Linked DNA regions of Homo sapiens: region 2 is linked to region 1. Evidence: fine-mapped expression QTL. A gene starts in region 1. The other region holds a variant in brackets. All regions are shown on one strand. Distances are from middle to middle.

Region 1 (2,905 bases):
AACAAAATTGGTAATAGCCCTTTCCCGAAAAGACCCTCTTCTTGCCTGGGGACCAGTCTGCCTTTGTAGGACTAACAAATAAGCTACAAGATTAGAAATTACCATTTAGGTAACTTCAGCCTCTGGCTGCAAGAGTCTGAAACTCCCCAAATTGCTCCTTGGGATAACATCACTATTATAAAATCTAAGATCAGTGCTTGAGATATTTTGCAGACCCCGTACTTGACGGATCAGCTGACACTACCCAGACCAGTAATCTGGCTCAACCAGTCCTGCGATCCCACCCAGGAACAGAAGACAGCAAGAAAACCTCACTTCAACACTCCCGTCGATGACTCCATCGACCTCAGGAAGCTCCAACCAATCAGCACTCCCCACTTCCTGAGCCCCTACCCGCCAAATTATCTTTCAAAACTCGGATCCCCTAATGCTCAGCGGAGACTGATTTGAGCAATAATAAAACTCTGGTCTCCTGCATAGCTGGCTCTGTGTGAAATACTCTTTCTCCACTGCAATTCCCCTGTCTTGATAAATCTGTCTAGGAAGACAGGCAAGGTGAACCCATTGGGTGGTTACACACTGACCAGCCGGATTTAGGGAGAGTTCTCACTAATCCACAGTTCTGATGCAGCCACCCCTGGGGGACCCTCCTGGTTACTGAATCTCCCACTGTCTCACAGAGTCTGGAAGTCACATCCCCAACAAGGGCCTTGGTTTCTCTCATTGAAAAAAGAAGGACCAGAAGCTGATGGGCCAGGAAACTCCCAGCTCTGAATTCCTTTTCCGATCTGCACAGTGGGGGACACGGGCACTTTCTAGCCCAGATCCAGAACTTCCAGAATCATAAACAATGGGCCCTGCAGAGACCTGGGCCGCAATTTTTCCTTCTTTGTATTGGGAGGATGTACTTTGTCCACCCCTAGCTCAAAACGCCCCCTTCCGCTGGAATGACATGCTATGTGACCCAAGGAGAAACACCACACCCCAGCACCAGGCCTGCTTTTCAGCCAGAAACCAAGAGGCCTAGGAGGCTGTGCTGCTAGCATCTTGCAAGCTCTGAAATTCCTAAAACTAAGTTTCACAACTCAGACTGGCCCCCTACTTCCCAGCACTCTAGTTTTCAATCAGGGAGGTCAGACTGGGCCCGAAGCGTAAGGGACCCCTTCCCTGCCCAAAAACTCTCTGCTGCATTTGGCGGATCCCCACCTTTTTTTTTTTTACTTCAGTTTCCCCACCTGCAAACTGGGAAAACTAACTAAGGCGAGGCCACTGTACTGTGGATACAAGTCCGTGCAACCCTAAATCCCAGACACGAACGTGATAGAGCCACCTGCAGTCTCCGGCCTCAGTTTCCCAGCCTCGTGCCGGGGGGCGGGACTCGAGGCTCGGACCTTACGTTCGCCCCGCGCCAACCAAGCCCACAGCGCCCGCCCGCAGGGATCCCAACGACTGCTGTTCCCGCCTCCCGGTGAGACCCCGCAGTTGCCCTGCCCTCACCATGGTGCCGGCGGGGACCGGGCTCGCCGGCCACTTCCGCCGCCGCCGCTGCACACGCTCCCGGCGGTCGTCGCCGCGCCGCGCGCCACTAAGCTGAAAGAAAGTGGCAGAGACGCAAGCCAGTCAGCACCGGGCTCGAAGGGCGGTCAACCAATCCACGCGGAGTAGGGCGGGGCCCGCTGGGCGAAAGGGCGGGGCGGGCCGTGTTCCCGCCGGAGGAACGAGGACGAGAGCCGTAAAGTGCCGCGGCTTGTAATGCAAAAGGAGGCGGAGCAACGCGCGCCGGCGCGGGGTGCATTGTGAGGAAATGCGTGCGCAGGTGAAACCTTCGTCGGTCTCCTGGGCTCCACGCTGTGGGCAAAGCCAGTTAATGCCTTTCGTTTGCAGTAGAGAGAGAGAAATCGAGGCTTCGTGGTGATTGGGCCGTGCCTGATGTTGCCCTTCCGACTCCTAGTTTTCTGATTCTGTAATTATCCAGGGAACATCATTTAATAGGTTGGAATCCTGACCACGACCCTCGGGGCCTCAGTTTGCTCCCTGTAAATAGTAGTGTCTGCTCCAAAACGTTGCTTACTGTAAGGATGAAATGAATGAAACCATGTAAAAGCACTTAAAACAGCGTCTGGCACATATTAAGTACTTATTACCTACTCTGTGCCTGTTTCTGCTCACAGAATGAACAAAACACAAAATTCGTGGCCCTCAGGGAGACAGACAGTAAACAAAGTAAATAGGCGAATGCTATTAGTTTTCTGGGGCCTGCTGTAACAAATGCCCACACACTGCGAGGTTTAAAACAACAGAACGTGATTTTCTCACAATTCAAGAGATCAGAATAATGAAGTGAGGTTGTCAGCACAGTTGGCTCCCTCTGGAGGCTCTGAGGACAATCTGTGTGTCCTATGCCTCTCTCCTGGGTTCTGGTGGCTGCTGGGAATCCTTGGAGTTCTTGGCTTGTAGATGCAGCCTTCCGCGTTCTGCCTTTGTCGTCACTTGGCCTTCTCTGTGTGTCTCTGAGTCTCAAATGTATCTCTCCTTTTTTTTTTCTTTTTTTTTTTTGTAGTAGAGACAGGGTCTCCCTATGTTGTCCAGGCTGGTCTCGAACTCCTGGGGTCAAGCAATCCTCCCTCCTCTGCCTCCCAAAGTGCTGGGATTACAGGCGTGAGCCACCGAGCCCGGCCGCTCCTTTTTCTTGTAAAGGACACTCCTTTCTCTTATTAAGTCCACCATAAATTTCAGGATAATGTCATCTCAAGATCCTTAATTACATCTGCGAAGACCCTGTTCTTTTTTTTTTGAGATGGAGTCTCATTCTATCACCCAGGCTGCAGTGCAGTGGTGCGATCTCAGCTCACTGCAACCCCTCCCTCCTGGGTTCAAGGGATTCTTCTGCCTCAGCCACCCGAGT
Region 2 (2,905 bases), 22 kb before region 1:
CTCGAAGCCAGTGGGAGGGTGAGGAGGTGGAATTCAGACCAGCTGGGGGCTCTGTCAAAAGGGCCTGCTTCTGGCTGCCTCAACAATGCAAACGGCAAGAACTTTTTTTTTTTGGTGGGGGGGGGGTCTTGCTTTGTCACCCAGGCTGGAGTGCAGTGGCGCAATCATGGCTCACTGTAGCCTCAACCTCCCTACTCAAGTGATCCTCCCCCTTCAGCCTCCTCAGCAGCTGGGACTACAGGTGTGTACCGCCGTGCTTGGCTAATTTCATTTGTTTTGTAGAGGTAGGGTCTCACTATGTTGCCCAGACTGGGATCCTGGGCTCCAGCCATCCGCCCGCCTTGGCGTCCCAAAGTATTGGGATTACAGGCTTGAGCTACTGTGCCCGGCCAAGAACCATTTTTAAATCTAATTAATTTTTTTTTTTTTGAGATGAAGTTTTGCTCTTCTTACCCAGGCTGGAGTGCAGTGGCGAGATCTCAGCTCACTGCAACCTCTGCCTCCCGGGTTAAAGCAATTCTCGTGCCTCAGCCTCCTGAGTAGCTGGGATTACAGGTGCCTGCCACCACACCCGGTTAATTTTTTTGTTTGTTTGTTTTGGTTTTTTTGAGACAGAGTCTCACTCTGTTGCCAGGCTGGAGTGCAGTGGTGTGACCTCGGCTCATTGCAACCTCTGCCTCCCGGGTTCAAGCAATTCTTCTGCCTCAGCCTCCCGAGTAGCTGGGACTACAGGTGTGTGCCACCAGGCCTGGCTAATTTTTGTATTTTTAGTAGAGACGGGGTTTCACCATGTTAGCCAGGATGGTCTCCATCTCTTGACTTCATGATCCGCCCGCCTCGGCCTCCCAAAGTGCTGGGATTACAGGTGTGAGCCACCACGCCCGGCCAATTTTTATATTTTTTAGTAGAGACGGGGTTTCACCATGTTTCCCAGGCTGGTGTCAAACTCCTGACTTCAGGTGGTCCACCCACCTCAGCCTCCCAAAGTGCTGGGATTACAGGCATAAGCCACTGCACCTGGCCCATTTTTTTAATTTTTAATTTTTTTTCCCAAGACAGTCTTGCTCTGTCACCCAGGCTGGAGTGCAGTGGCATGATCTCGGCTCACTGCAACCCCCACCTCCCAGGTTAAAGCAATTCTCCTGCCTCAGCCTCCCGAGTAGATGGGATTACTGGCGCTCACCACCATGCCCGCCTAATTTCTGTATTTTTAGTAGAGACTGGGTTTCACCGTGTTAGCCAGGCTGGTCTTGAACTCCTGACCTCGTGATCCGCCCGCCTCAGCCTCCCAAAGTGCTGGGATTACAGGTGTGAGCCACCACCCCCAGCCATTTTTTTAATGTTTAAGGAAAACTGCTGGGCAGTGAAGGTCTCCCCAGACAATGTCACTGAGCCCCGGCCTCCCCAACCTGGTCTGAGATTTCAGGGGGTTTCAGAAGAAGCTGACCTT[T/C]GAGAAGGCTCTGGGGCCAGGATGTCTGAGTTACTTGATGCTGGAGGGGTGGGGCAAGGAGGGTCTGGCCCTGGTGGTGCAGAGGAGGGGAGATGAGGGTGGGGAAGACACTTGAGGACGTGAGGAGTATTTTTAGGTGCTGAATGCAGCCCTGAAATATTTCCACGGCCACTCCCGAGAGCGAGCTGGGTGACTATTTCGGTGCCTGGTTCCAGTGGAGGCGGGGCAGGGGTGAGTCACTCACTGCCCAGTGGCCGCAGAGGCCAGGCCCAGGCTGGGAGGCGGCTCGAAGGGCAGGATCGCAGGCCTGCAAGGTGAACGGTCACTGGCCTGGGGCCAGGCTTCCTAAGCCAGCCTCCAGGGCACAGAGGACAGCGGCCTTTCTATTCCCCATGGCACTGGCCAATCCAGAGGGGCCACTGCCTGGGTGCCCTGGGACAATGAGCTGCTCACGCCAACCCCATAGTTGTAAAGATGGAGGGTCCCCCGTGAGGTTCTGGACACCCCACAGGTGCTAGGCGAGATGCCATCTTAGATTATTTCAAGCATTTATTGAGCACTTGCTGTATACCAGGCCAGTCCTAAAATGATTACTGGCATCCTCCCTTCATGCAATCTGCCCAATAACCCCCATGAGGTAGAGCTGCTGTTATCCCCCCGACCAGGGAGGAAACTGAGGCACGGTAGGGTTAAGCCCTCCAGGCACCTAACTATGTGCCTCAAATCCTGTCCCTCAGCTGATGTTACAATCAGGGGAGTGAGTTTTAAAGCAGCAGCCGATCTTGCTTACCCCCCACACCCTATTCCCAACCAATTTTGGGGTCCTGACTGTGCCTGAGCTGGGAGAAGGTCAATGGATCCTTCAGGTTTAAGGAGGCAGTGGAAAGAGGAGGTCACCATTGCTGTGTGACCTGGGGCAGGTTCCTCACCCTCTCTGTGCCTGAGCAGTGAATGACGATGCCACCCTATGGGTGAGTTCCGGAGCTGCCTGGCACACATTCATGATAGATAAACAATGGTTGGCTGAGCATACTGGCTCAGGCCTGTAATCCCAGCACTTTGGGAGGCTAAGGTGGGAGGATCGTTTGAGCCTAGGAGTTTGAGACCAGCCTGGACAACATGGTGAGACCCCTATCTGTAAAAAAAATAAAAAACAATTATCGGCTGTTGCTTGGATTGTGTGCCTGTCCTGAGCCTTCATTTCTCCATCTGTGAGGACCCTCGGAGGTGCTGGGTTGGAAGTGGCTTTGGAAACCCACGGGGCTGAGCGGCAAGGCTGAGTGGGAGCTCGGGGAATCCTCGCCCTCACTCGAAGTCTCCTTGAGAAGAGGCTGATGCTTGGCCGGGCGAGATGGCTTACGCCTGTAATCCCAGCACTTTGGGAGGCCGAGGCGGGCGGATTGCCCGAGGTCAGGAGTTCGAGACCAGCCTAGCCAACATGGCGAAATCCTGTCT

What was found. PIP is the estimated chance that this variant, and not a neighbour inherited with it, causes the effect. A credible set is the group of variants that fine-mapping cannot tell apart.
Region 2: its variant is the best candidate, but not a certain one, in a credible set for the expression of LSM4 in whole blood (INTERVAL, PIP 0.87).

Annotation. Positions count from the first base shown.
Region 1 is chr19:18,321,521-18,324,425 of GRCh38, forward strand. LSM4 (LSM4 homolog, U6 small nuclear RNA and mRNA degradation associated) reads right to left here and starts at 1,556. Exons shown (of 5, transcript NM_012321.5): 1 at 1,498-1,556. The coding sequence starts at 1,500. It overlaps LOC105372300 (a long non-coding RNA gene), which reads left to right. Exons shown (of 2, transcript XR_007067157.1): 2 at 214-477. RefSeq lists a silencer at 1,437-1,616 and enhancers at 1,677-1,896, 2,095-2,697.
Region 2 is chr19:18,299,542-18,302,446 of GRCh38, forward strand. No RefSeq gene overlaps it. Among named protein-coding and RNA genes, the nearest start is that of MIR3188, 19 kb to the left of the region's middle. RefSeq lists a cis regulatory region at 1,509-1,928. The variant T/C (reference allele first, on the strand shown) is at 1,451.